Linked DNA regions of Homo sapiens. The protein of the gene in region 2 purifies or fractionates together with the protein of the main gene of each other region. This does not show direct contact. Each region holds a gene or a part of one and is shown on either strand. Other genes may lie near its edges.

Region 1 (4,343 bases), on a different chromosome or scaffold from region 2:
GTCTCAGTTTCCCTATTTCTAGAATGAGGATATTGCACTCCTAAAGCTCTTAGCACTGTGTTAGCATGTACTTGGAGGATCTCCTCTTACATGGCTTCATTCAGCCACTTTAACTTTTCCCCTTCATACATACAGGGCTCATTTTTCCTTGCTTTTCAGTTTTCACTTACACTACTTTCATTAGCCTTCTTGCAGCCCATTCAGACCCAAGCTCACTTACCCTTTGAGGCTCATCTGAAATCCTAACTTCTCCATGAAACCTTCTCTAATTATTCTAACCTTAAGAGTACTTGTTTGACACATCTCCTAAATGTCAAAGACTATTTGAACCCAGATCTACCTGACTTCAAAGCTTGTGTAGCTTTGAAAACTACTCCCGAGTAGGAGTGATTTTAAAGTTTCAGTCCAATTCAAATATTCAGCTTCCTCAAATTTTTAAAAGAATGAAGTGCTACATAATCTTTTATCTCTTCTATTTTAAATACTCAAAGCACTTAAGTGCCCATTTGTATAATAACATACTGAGGATTTTATAAATTTATACATCAGCCAGCAGTCTCGGCATTTTAAAAGTTTGTCTCAACCAATACAGAAATAAGTACAAGATGTACAGATATAATAGTATATGAATATTTCTATTTTGTATATGTTATAGGAAGCACAAAAATTCTTTTATCTCAGAATGTCATATTTTACTAGAAAATTGATGGCAAAAGGCTAAACCAAAATGCCTACTCATTTTTTCTACCTCAGGGACTCTTATAATATGACAAGAACTATTGGGATTGTGTGGAAAATCACAAATCAGTTTATAATACTGTATTACACAGTGTGATTATTACTATAACAATCCTGTTACATCTGTTTTCACACACTGTCAAACTCAAGGTGTACAGTATCTAGACAGTATATGGAATAACTAATAATTTGCTTAAAACCCAGTCCTTAACCATGGGTATTCATCACTCTGAATTTTAAGCCTTGACATTTATGTCTGCTACAGTGGTATCTGGTGATAGAGTTGAGACCCTTGGGAGTTTAGTCCTTAGAATTTTCCTTTCCTTTGGGCAGTCTTAAGAAAGTTAAATTTTACAAAGTATCTCTTGAAAGAGCATTGGCTGTGGTCTAAGAGTAGAATTAAATGTAGCAATTTTATTATCTTTGGGGCAAAGGATTCTACCAGTGTTTAAAAACTCATTTTAAAGAAATATAATAATTTTGACATAAGCCTAATCAGCTGAGTGAGGTGGCTCATGCCTGTAATCCCAGTACTTTGGGAGGCCGAGGTGGGAGGGGATCACTTGAACCCAGGAGTTTGAGACCACCCTGGGCAACATGGGGAAACCCCGTCTCTACAAAAAAATACAAAAATTAGCCAGGTGTGATGGCACATGCCTGTGGTCTCAGCTACTTAGGAGACTGAGGTGGGAAGGATCGGTTGAGCCTGGGAGGTTGAAGCTACAGTGAGCCATGATCGTGCCACTGCATTCCTGCCTGGGAGACAGCAAGACCTTGTCTCAAAAAAAATTCTCCTCTCTAACTTCTGTCTTTCTAAACATGGAAGATGTATTTGAACATCTAGAGAGGAGCTGTTATAAAATAAAACACTTTAAAAATTAATTGCTCAGACCCAAGTATACATTATCCATTTTCTTTTTTCGAGATGGAGTTTCGCTCTTGTTGCCCAGGCTGGAGTGCAGTGGGGCAATCTTGGCTCACCGCAACCTCTGCCTCCCAGGTTCAAGCAATTCTCCTGCCTCAGCCTCCCGAGTAGCTGGGATTACAGGCATGCGTCCCCACACCTGGCTAATTTTGTATTTTTAGTAGAGTTTCTCCATGTTGGTCAGGCTGGTCTTGAACTCCTGACCTCAGGTGATCCATCCACCTCAACCTCCCAAAGTGCTGGGATTACAGACGTGAGCCACCGCATCCAGCCTCCATTTTCTTATTTAAGACTTACTGACTTGTCTAAGATCTCTTCCTGCTAAGTTATTTCAATGATATCTTCTTATAGGATTCTTATGGGAATTTTAGTAGTTTCATTGCAGATCAATAATGGGACCACGTTTTGGGGGAGTGAAGGGTGGGGAGCTGGGAATAAGACTATACATAATCAGAATTTTTGATTTTGCAGATTGCTCTAGAGACATGTTCTGATTTCAGTTGAGCTATTTCAGTTCCATATTTTTGAAGCTGATCCTTCGTTTCAGCCAAAATAGTAGATACAAATCAATGACGTTGTTAAACCTTTTTCTGAATTATTTTATTGCTTTGTAATTTACAAGATTCTTGACATTAGTGGTAGTGTTCACATTTAAGCTGTTATAACAGCCTTCTAATGGTAGACTTTTCTAAGTTTTATTAATTGAAAATGCCCACAAAATGATTATTTTACTGATTCACTTGTAATTCCCCCTTCCTTTGACAGGATATCTATAGAGAAATGGGGTTTGGTCACTATGAAGAAGAAGAAAGCTGTTGGGAGAAACAAAAGAGTGAAAAGAGAGACCGAACTCAGAACCGAAGTCGTAGCCGATCTCGAGAGAGGGATGGCCATTATAGTAATAGTCATAAATCAAAATACCAAACAGATCTTTATGAAAGAGAAAGGAGTAAAAAGAGAGACCGAAGCAGAAGTCCAAAGAAGTCCAAAGATAAAGAAAAATCTAAGTATAGATGAAAGATGAAGAGGCAGAATTGAGAGGCTAACATATTTACTCTTGTCTAACTTAAGAGTGCCAGGAAAGCAGATGCTTAGATTTTGTGTCAAAGCTTGTTATTTTTTTCATACTAGGATTATGGTCTTTAGATTAATACTGATTATATAGAGCACGGAAAGATAAAGAATTGAACATTTTCTTTGTATACTTTTTTACACTAATTTTATTGTTATACATAAATGGTAGTCTTCATTTTTGAAGTCTTACATTTTCACTCTTTTTTTAATGAAGTATTTCATACTACAAAAATACATAAACGTATATATAAAGGGATAATAAATGTAAATATCTGTGTACTCATCAGCCAGCTTAAGATACAGATGTTGTCGACATTTTAGAAGTTCCCTAAGGCCCTCTCCCTCTCAAATAATTATTTGGAATTTTGTGTTTGTCATTTGTCTATTATAGTTTTACAACATACGTATGTATCTGTAAGTGAAATGTTAATTTTGTATGTTTCTGAATTTTATATAAATGGCAAAATGTTTACTTCTGTGACTTTCTTTCATTTTTATTGCTATATAGTATTATATAAATATACTACAACTTATTCATTCTTGATGGACATTTGAGTTTTGTTTATTTGTTTTTGCTGTTGAAACAATGCTGCTGTGAACATTGTATCTAGCAGTTATATTGCTTGATATATTGATAAAATAATGCCAAATTTGTGTTCTGAAGTGACTGTACTAGTTTATACCTCTCTTGGCACTGTGAGTTACCTTTGTTTCATAGCATCTCCAACACTTAAGTTCAGACTTAAAAATTTGCCAACCTAGTGGATGTTAAGTGGTATCTACCTGTGATTTCCAGCAAGATTACTGTTATCTCTGCTCTTCCATGTGTAAGATGTCATTTTTTTCCTGGCTGCTTTTAAGGTTTTCTGTCACTGGTTGTAAGAAGTTTGATTATGATGTGCTTGCTGTAGTTTTTTTTTCACGTTTCTGCTGCTGCAGCTATTTTACCTGTGGGTTTATGGTTTTCATAGAATTTGGAAATTGGGGGGCATTTTTTCTTCTGTTATGGTTTTCTCTCTGCTCCTCTCATGCTTCTCCTGGGGCTCTGATGACTTGGATGTACGTTAGGCCCCTCAGAATTTTCTCCCAGTGTGCTGATTCTGTGCAGCTTTTTAAAAAGCCTTTTTCTCTCTGTGTTTCATGTTGGGTACTTTCCAGTGCTGTGTCCTCATTGTTTATTAATCTTTCTGTCTAAAGTATCTAATTTCCTTTTAATCGTATCCAGGTATTTTTCACCTCCGACATATTTTTAGTCTTTAGAATTTCTGTCTGGGTCTTTATCTCCCATGTGTCTCCTTCACATGCTCATGCCTTCCTCTATTTTTTTTTTTTTCAACATCTGGAGTGTATTGATAATAGCTCTTTCAGTGTGCTTGCCCATTCTGTCATCTGCATCATTTCTGGTCTGTTTCTATTGATTGATTCCCACCCTACCCCAACCCCCACCCTGCCCATATTGGATTGTAACTTCCTTCATTACATGCCTGGTAATTTCTGTTTTTAATATTGGGTGCTGGAGTTCTTTTAAGTATCTTGAACTCTGTTTGGGGACATAAAGTTACTTGGAAACAATCCGATCATTTTATAGCTTGCTTTTAAGCTTAAT
Region 2 (8,018 bases):
GAATGGAGCTGCATCTTAAAATCGATGGCGCATTTCCATTCTTACTAATACAGTAGTCCCTCTTTACCTTTGGTTTTGCTTTCCAATTTTTCAGTTACCTACAGTCAGTGGAGGTCCAAAAATGTTACAGTACTTTGAGAGACAGAGAGAGACCACATTTACAAAAGTTTTACTACAGTATATTGTCATAACTGCTCTATTTTATTGTTGTTGTTGTTAATTTCTTACTATGCCTAATTTATAAACTAAACTTTATCAAAAGTATGTATGTATGTATAGGAAAACACATAGTATATGCAGGGTTTGGTATTATTGGCAGTTTCAGGCATTGAGTGGTCTTAGAAGGCATCTCCCAAGGATAAGAAGGGATTACTGCACATAAAATAGTGATATATCTTAATAGATGGCACCTTAGATTGAAGCATTAGAATAATACATTTGTTATTTTTTAAGGCAAATCATATCCAATATAATACTGCTCTTTACAAACCTTATGACAGAAAGTTCTGTCATACTGAATGACACTTGTCAAAAAACAAAATTACAACAAATTTATTTTATTTTTATTTATTTTTTTTGACACAGAGTCTCACTCTGTTGCCCAGACTGGAGTGCAACAGCACGGTCTCAGCTCACTGCAACCTCTGCCTCCTGGGTTCAAGTGATTCTCCCGCCTCAGCCTCCCAAGTAGCTGGGATTATAGGCGCCCGCCACCACGCCTAATTTTTGTATTTTTAGTATAGACGGGTTTCACCATGTTGGCCAGGCTGGTCTCGAACTGCTGACCTCATGATCCACCTGCCCTGGCCTCCCAAAGTGCTGGGATTACAGGCTTGAGCCACTGCGCCCGGCCTAAAAAATTTTTTTTTTTTTGGAGACGGAGTCTCACTCTGTCTCCCAGGCTGGAGTACAGTGGCACGATCTCGGCTCACTGCAAGCTCCGCCTCCCAGATTCATGCCATTCTCCTGCCTCAGCCTCCCGAGTAGCTGGGACTACAAGCGCCCACCACCACGCCCGGCGAATTTTTTTTTTTTCTATTTTTAGTAGAGACAGGGTTTCACTGTGTTAGCCATGATGGTCCCGATCTCCTGACCTCATGATCCGCCCACCTCGGGCTCCCAAAGTGCTGGGATTACAGGCGTGAGCCACTGTGCCCAGCCAAAACTTTTTAATTGGCTTTTGTGATTCTAACTCTGGAATCACATCAACCCATCGTCTCATAAAATAGAATCAGTGTTCCAATGAGCTGAGCAGAGGAGGCTGATTGTATAGACAGAAAAGGGCTGAGGAAAGCAGAAACAGAAAACAAAAAGCAGATTGCTCATTTCAAAGTTACTTTTCTTGTCAAAGTTAAAGCAGAGGAAACTTCTTGATGCTCCTAAAACTGGTCTGTTTGGGGATTTGGCTATTATCTCTTTCTCCTGATTTCTCAGTAGATGAAAAATTTAGTTTCTAGACTTGGTGGCGTGGAACTTCAGTATGAGTAACTCCATTTTGGTTTGGTCTGTTGGGTCTAGTGCGGGGGATCAGTCCAAACCAAAGGCCTCCTATTAACTTTACTTAACGTATTTTAAAGGTAATTTGTTAGTTGGCTTGCGCTGGCAAAGTCAGGGGATAAATATTTACCTGATAATGCTCTAGAGAAAGAACCAAGAAGTACTAATGGCAGCAACAGATATCACATATCTCTTACCCCTCAAAATTATTTCAGTATCCAATGGTTAATAGTCTACTGCTAGACAACTTTATTCTATAAAATGGAATATCTAGATGTAATTCTATTTGAGATTATTATGGTAATTAAAAATGGGAAAATTTGCCATCCCAACTAATTCTTGAACCTGAAATAGACCATAAAGAAGCAAAGGAGACATAGGGGAAGGGGGTGTGCCAAGAGAAGCGGGACTATAAAGCAAATACTGGGCAATCATGGAGTACAGAAGTCCTACTGGCCTTTAAAAAGAGGATATTTTTAAAATATTTCCAATTATTACAACAGAAAAAAATCACCTGCTTCATATAGATATTTTGGGAGTTGAGTTGTTTTACCACTTCCTGTATTTCCAGTAACAATAAGGAATGAATTGTCCCTCACAGCTTGAATAATCTTTTTTCTTTGTTTCTGAATAGGAAAAGTTGGAGTAGTTCCTCCCTCCTGGGACGTGCATCCTTTCTCTTCTGTAATAACAGAAAAACAAGTCAATTAAAAGACTTGTAAAGATATCTCTGACTCAATTTCTCATGACTAAAACCAGAAAGGCAATAGAATTTTAGGGCTGGACGGGATCATCCATGACTTCTCAGTTAAATCGCTCATGTAAGTGAGCGTTAATGAGCGCAATTTGTAAGTGAGGGTTAATGAGCCCAGAACAACTTTTTGGTGAAATCCAGCAACTTGAGCATTTGTTCACGCATAACTCAAAGTACTTTTCAAAGCAAGTATAGCTCAAGGCAACGTATACACATGCATACTTACACAGAAGCACAAAACTCAATTTTATTTAACAATAGACCAAAAACTGGAACACAGCAGAAAATTCTCAGCTGGATTAGAAGCCACCTGTGTTTGCTTCTGATTCATGGTTCAAGTTAGGTCCCTGTTCAGAGCGACTGATATCCCAGAAGGCCAAGTGGTGGGTAACCATGGAAACTGGCTCCTGGAAACTGGCTCCCTTCATACTGTACCCAAAGGCAGGCTGGCGGCCCGACGAAGGGTGGGGGGGATGAATGGGTAGAGAACAAAGGGTCTATGAGCCTGTTTAAGAACAGAATGCATTTCGGGCGTTGGGGTTCACTTTTTCGCCCCCCAGTAAGGTTTTCGCCTAACTTGAATCTGGGACCGCCCCCCTCTAAGGCAAAGTGCTCATTGGACGCAAAGTTCGCCTCGGGCTTGGAAAGCCAGGAGAACGCCACGGCTTCCTCACTACTCTTCTCAGCCTGCCAAAGGCGTACTTTCATCCCCCCACCAAAACCCCCACGCCGTAACTCCCGCTGGCTTCCGTACCGTCCCGCGGACCGCACCTCTATCGGCGATGCAAACAGCCGAGAGCCGCTCTTCCTGGAGGTCTCTTGACCGCTCACCCTCCTCCTGCCGCCTTGGCGCCCTGCCCGCGACTGCGGGAAACCGGGACATAGACCTGGCCCCGAGTGGAGGCGAGCACGTCCACCGATCTGAGGAGATGGGAGGGGAAAGACGAGGACGCGCCCTGATGACGTAGAGGTGTTTACTTCCGCGCGTGCGACTTGTAGCAAGGGGAGGGGGAGCTGCTCGATGACGTGGTACGGGGCGGCCGGACCTCGAGCCGAGGCTCCACCCCCCAGGGATTTCCCGCCAACTGCCACGTGCGCTTCGCCTTGGGCGGCTGAGCCATACCTGAGGGCCCGAAGACCCCCTCTTGTTTCGCCTCTCCGGCGCCGAAGGTCGCGACGACACCTCTTTTCAACGCCACAGTGGTCTCTGCAGGCTATTCTGCCTTCACACACTTGACACGATGTAACCCTCTGCCCGGAGCTGGAACCATGATCCCAGAGTGCTGCGTTCCTCAACTCATTCTCACCTTTCCTAATCTGATATGACCTGTCCAAGGCACACAGCTACTGAGTTGTGGAGCCGAACTTTTAGTTATGTTATTATCAAAACTTAGGTCACCAAGGCTGTTCATTTCCCTCATAGGACCCTGCATTTTAATTTATTTGCATGTTTCCTCTTCTGCCCAGCTAGATTGTAAAGCCCCCCCCCACAAGAGTCGAAATATTAAAACACTGCTACATCCAGGGCCCAGCACAGTGATTCAAGGTGGGCTGTCAATATTTGTTGACTTTGCTGGAATGGAGGAATAATAATTGACTTCCTTAGGAATTAAGCTCATTTTTGATAGAGGTGCATTCCTTGGAAACCACAGTAGCTGAAAAGTTCAACAGATACACAGCATCTGAGGCAGGGCAACTTTTTCAGAAAAGGTACTTTGGGGGCAGGTCTTTCTGGTCTAGAGCCTGCCAATTTTTAAATTAGTGTCAACTGTAACAAAATCATTGCAATGTGAACAAGATTGTTTGTTGGACTCCTCAATTGTTCCTGCTGTTAGAATTAGCCAACACTTACTACCAAAGAAGACAACTCAAAACTGTCACTTCACCATCACCTAAAGACCCTCTTGTCTGACCAGGCTTCAAAAGATGTACCATAAGGTTGTTGGGCCCCCAGATTTTTCTGTGCTCATTTGAAGTGAAGTCATGGCCATGCATGGTGGCTCATGCCTGTAATGCCAGCACCTTGGGGGGCCAGGACAGATGAATCACTTGAGATCAGGAGTTCGAGACCGGCCTGGCCAATATGGTGAAACCCCGTCTCTATTAAAAATAAAAAAATAAAAAAAATTAGCCGGGTGTGGTAGCACGCGCCTATAATCCCAGCTACTCGGGAGGCTGAGGCAGGAGAATCGCTTGAACCTAGGAGGCAGGGGTTGCAGTGAGCCAAGATCATGCCACTGCACTCCAGCCTGGGCAACAGAGCGAGATTCCACCTCAAAAAATAAAGTGAACTCATACCAACTGCTTTTAAATGGAACTGATCAACACTTCTTAAAATGCAAGCTCATCAGATTTTGAATGATACCAAATAAGTTGGAACTTTGTAACAACTTTATATCTCAAAACCTGGGTATGAGAGGAAGCAATCTGGTAAATAGGAGAACATTCCAGGTTTCTCTCTTTCATTAGGAGCATCTCCCAGCCTTCTGGATCATGTTAGGAATTCAAAATATTATAGAAACAGAAAGCAAAATGGCAAAAATACATTTGTGGTACAGGCAAGGTATTGGTAATCTCAGTATTTCAGTATAGGGCATCTCTATCAGTGATATAATAAAGTCACTTTCTAAAAATCATCATTTCAGACCAATGATGATTACCACTTAGCTCATAGTAGTCAAATCTTTCTGATACAGTTGACCCTTGAACAATACTGGTTTGAACTTCGCAGGTCCACTTGTAGGCAGATTTTTTCTTCTGCACCTGCTAAGCTGGAGATAGCAAGATCAACCCTTTGTCTTCCTCCTCCTTCTCTTCAGCCTACTGAACAGGATGGAAACCTTTATGATGATCCACTTAAACTTAATGAATAGTAAATATATTTTCTCTTATGATTTTCTTAATGTTTTATTTTCTCTAGCTTGCTTTAAGAATACAGTATATAATACATATACAAAATACGTATTAATTAACTGTTTATGTTATTGGTAAGGCTTCCAGGCAATAGTTGGTATTAACAGTTAAGCTCTGGGGAGTCAAGTAATACAGATTTTGGCCCAATGCAGTGGCTCACACCTGTAATCCTAGCACTTTGGGAGGCCAAGGTGGGCAGATTGCCTGAGTTCAGGAGTTCAAGACCAGCCTGGGCAACATGGCAAAACCCCATCTCTCCTAAAAATACAAAAAAATTAGCTGGGTGTGGTGGTGCGTGCCTGTAGTCCTAGCTATTCGGGAGGCTGAGGCAGAAGAACCACTTGAACCTGGGAGGCGGAAGTTGGGGTGAGCCAAGATCGCGCCACTGCACTCCAGCCTGGGTGACAGCGAGACTCTGTCTCCAAGAAAAAAAAAGAAAAGAGTTATATGCAGATTTTTACAGTGCAAAAGGCTCGTGCTCCTAACCCCACCTTGTTCAGGTTTCAACTGTAAATTATTTCCTCTATTTTTCACAAAAACTCATACAGTTAGGTTATTACTATCCCTAATTTTTGTGTTAGAAACTTGCCTGTGGTGACAAAACAAAGAACTAAGAGGGCCAAGATTCAAAGTCACACTAATAACCACTAAACTGCATTGGGAGATGGAAGTATTTAGATTTTGGTACCAAAATAATGTATTTTCTTCCAATGTTTGTAACTCTAATAGAACTGACCCCATTCTTGTATGAGAACCACCTATTGAGAGTATAGAATATAAAACCTGCAAGCAAAGAATGAAGAAAAATAAAAGTGAAAAATTCAAGTGATGTTTAACATTGTTCATTTTATAACCAAGGACATTTAAAGCATGTTACCATGATAACCATGTGCTTGGGGCTATTCTAAATTAGAAGATCAACAATTATTTCCTACCCAGTGAGTTTACAAATTACAATGACAAACAAAACTCAAGTACAGAGTAAAAATAGAAAATAAATGGGTTGAATCTGGGAAGAAAGGTCAGTGTCCCTAACGACATTGAATCTATTTCTTATCTTTGGGTTACATTAAAAACCTGAGACCAGGCCTGTAATCCCAGGACTTTGGGAGACTGAGGTGGCCAGATCACCTGAGGTTGAGAGTTTGAGACCAGCCTGGCCAACATGGTGAAACCCCATCTCTACTAAAAATACAAAAAATTAGCCTAGGGTGGTAGTAGCCACCTGTAATCCCGGCTACTTAGGAGGCTGATGGAGGAGAATCTCTTGAACCCGGGAGGTGGTGGTTGCAGTGAGCCAAGATCTCACCACTGCACTCCAGCCTGGACAACAGAGTGAGACTCTGTCTCAAAAAAAAAAAAAAACTCCTGAAAGAACTGGTATTTAAAGAAGTGTGAGAAGTCTGAATTGCACCCTGCTGCTATTGCCTCATAAGCAGTCTTTCAAAATATTCCACAATCCAAGCAACCTGTTTCAGAGCATCCAAAAGAGACTCAACATTACAGATTTACAAAAATGGAATGGAATTTTAAAATCATCTTCAGGAAAGAAAGAAAAGTATAGGACCACTGTTGTGATGGTTAAAAGGAGTAAATAAAGCAAAAAAAAAAAAAAAGGAAAATTATCAAAGATATTATTACAGTCAGAACCAGAAAGTTTAAAATGCTAGAAAAATGGTGATATGTACAAACCTAATTAATAACAGAACCTAATTGTTCACAGAAGGAGTGAGCAATGGTATCAAGCTACATGGATTTTTTAAAAGCTCATTAATTGGACCAAAACAAGACTTGTCTTGGTAAAGGGAAGCAGACAGAAGCCATATTGTGAGTAAATGAGAATTCGCGAGCAAACTGAAAATGTACCTAATACACTTGGGGATGGCTGGTTAGAATCAACTAGGGTAAATGAAAGGGAGAGAAAAGAATAGCTGGAAAAAGATGCCGCTACTACAGTGTGTATGTGGTGATTAAGAGAAGACTTGGTCAATGAAAGTATTGGGGTACAATTAGAAGATTTGTTTAGGAGAGTTGAAACTGATACTGATGAGGGAGAAATACCAAGTTCACATTTTGAGGAAAGATAAAGGACTGGAGGAGAGAGAACAAACTTTTAGCCCACATAGGTATTATAAACTTGCATTTGTGGTGGATTTGTATCCCAAAATGTGAATCCGATTGTTTCTCTGTATTTTCCTCCCCTTTTTCTATCTCACTGGTAACCCATGGGCCTATCTTCCTGTTCAGCCCTCAACAAAGCAGAAACAAAAATCCAAAGACACTGCTGACATGAGGTCCCAAATCAGAGCCTTCTGTGCATGCTCAAATTACTGGTTACTTCCTCTCTCAGATGGATAAGGCTGGGCCTAGGCAGAGGGCAGAGAGTGGAGAGGATATAATGAGAAAGGAAGGACTGACAGAAGGGATAAACAGCCCTCTAGGGGGCAGGAGAAAGATCATCTTTTGTTAGAAAGTTCTAATGGGGCCAGATGTGGTGGTTCATGCCTGTAATCCCAACACGATGGGAGGCCAAGGCAGAAGGATTACTTGACACCAGGAGTTTGAGACCAGCCTGCGCAACATAGTGAGACCCCATCTCAAGACTCATCTCTACAAAAAATACAAAAATTAGCCAGGCATGGAGGTGCATGCCTGTATTCCCAGCTACTTGGGAGGCTGAGGCAGGGGGATCACTTGAGCCCAGGAGGACAAGACTGCAGTGTGAGCTGTGATGGTGCCACTGCACACCAGCCTGGGTGACAGAGTGAGACCCTGTTTCAGAAAAAAGGAAAGAAAGAAAAAAGAAAGAAAGAAAATTCTAATGGAAGGAATTCAAGGAGATAAACCATTCTCA

Evidence for each region.
Region 1: the proteins of DHX40 (region 2) and PPIL4 purify together in Homo sapiens (co-immunoprecipitation; 2 studies listed by BioGRID and IntAct, with this or other methods). This does not show direct contact.

Annotation. Positions count from the first base shown.
Region 1 is NC_000006.12:149,503,790-149,508,132, reverse strand, and holds the end of PPIL4 (peptidyl-prolyl cis-trans isomerase-like 4), read left to right. Parts: intron 1-2,428; coding exon 2,429-2,680; 3' UTR 2,681-3,638; downstream 3,639-4,343. UniProt on the Homo sapiens protein: PPIases accelerate the folding of proteins. It catalyzes the cis-trans isomerization of proline imidic peptide bonds in oligopeptides.
Region 2 is NC_000017.11:59,560,788-59,568,805, reverse strand, and holds the start of DHX40 (probable ATP-dependent RNA helicase DHX40), read right to left. Parts: upstream 3,197-8,018; 5' UTR 3,135-3,196; coding exon 3,023-3,134; intron 2,180-3,022; coding exon 2,012-2,179; intron 1-2,011. UniProt on the Homo sapiens protein: Probable ATP-dependent RNA helicase.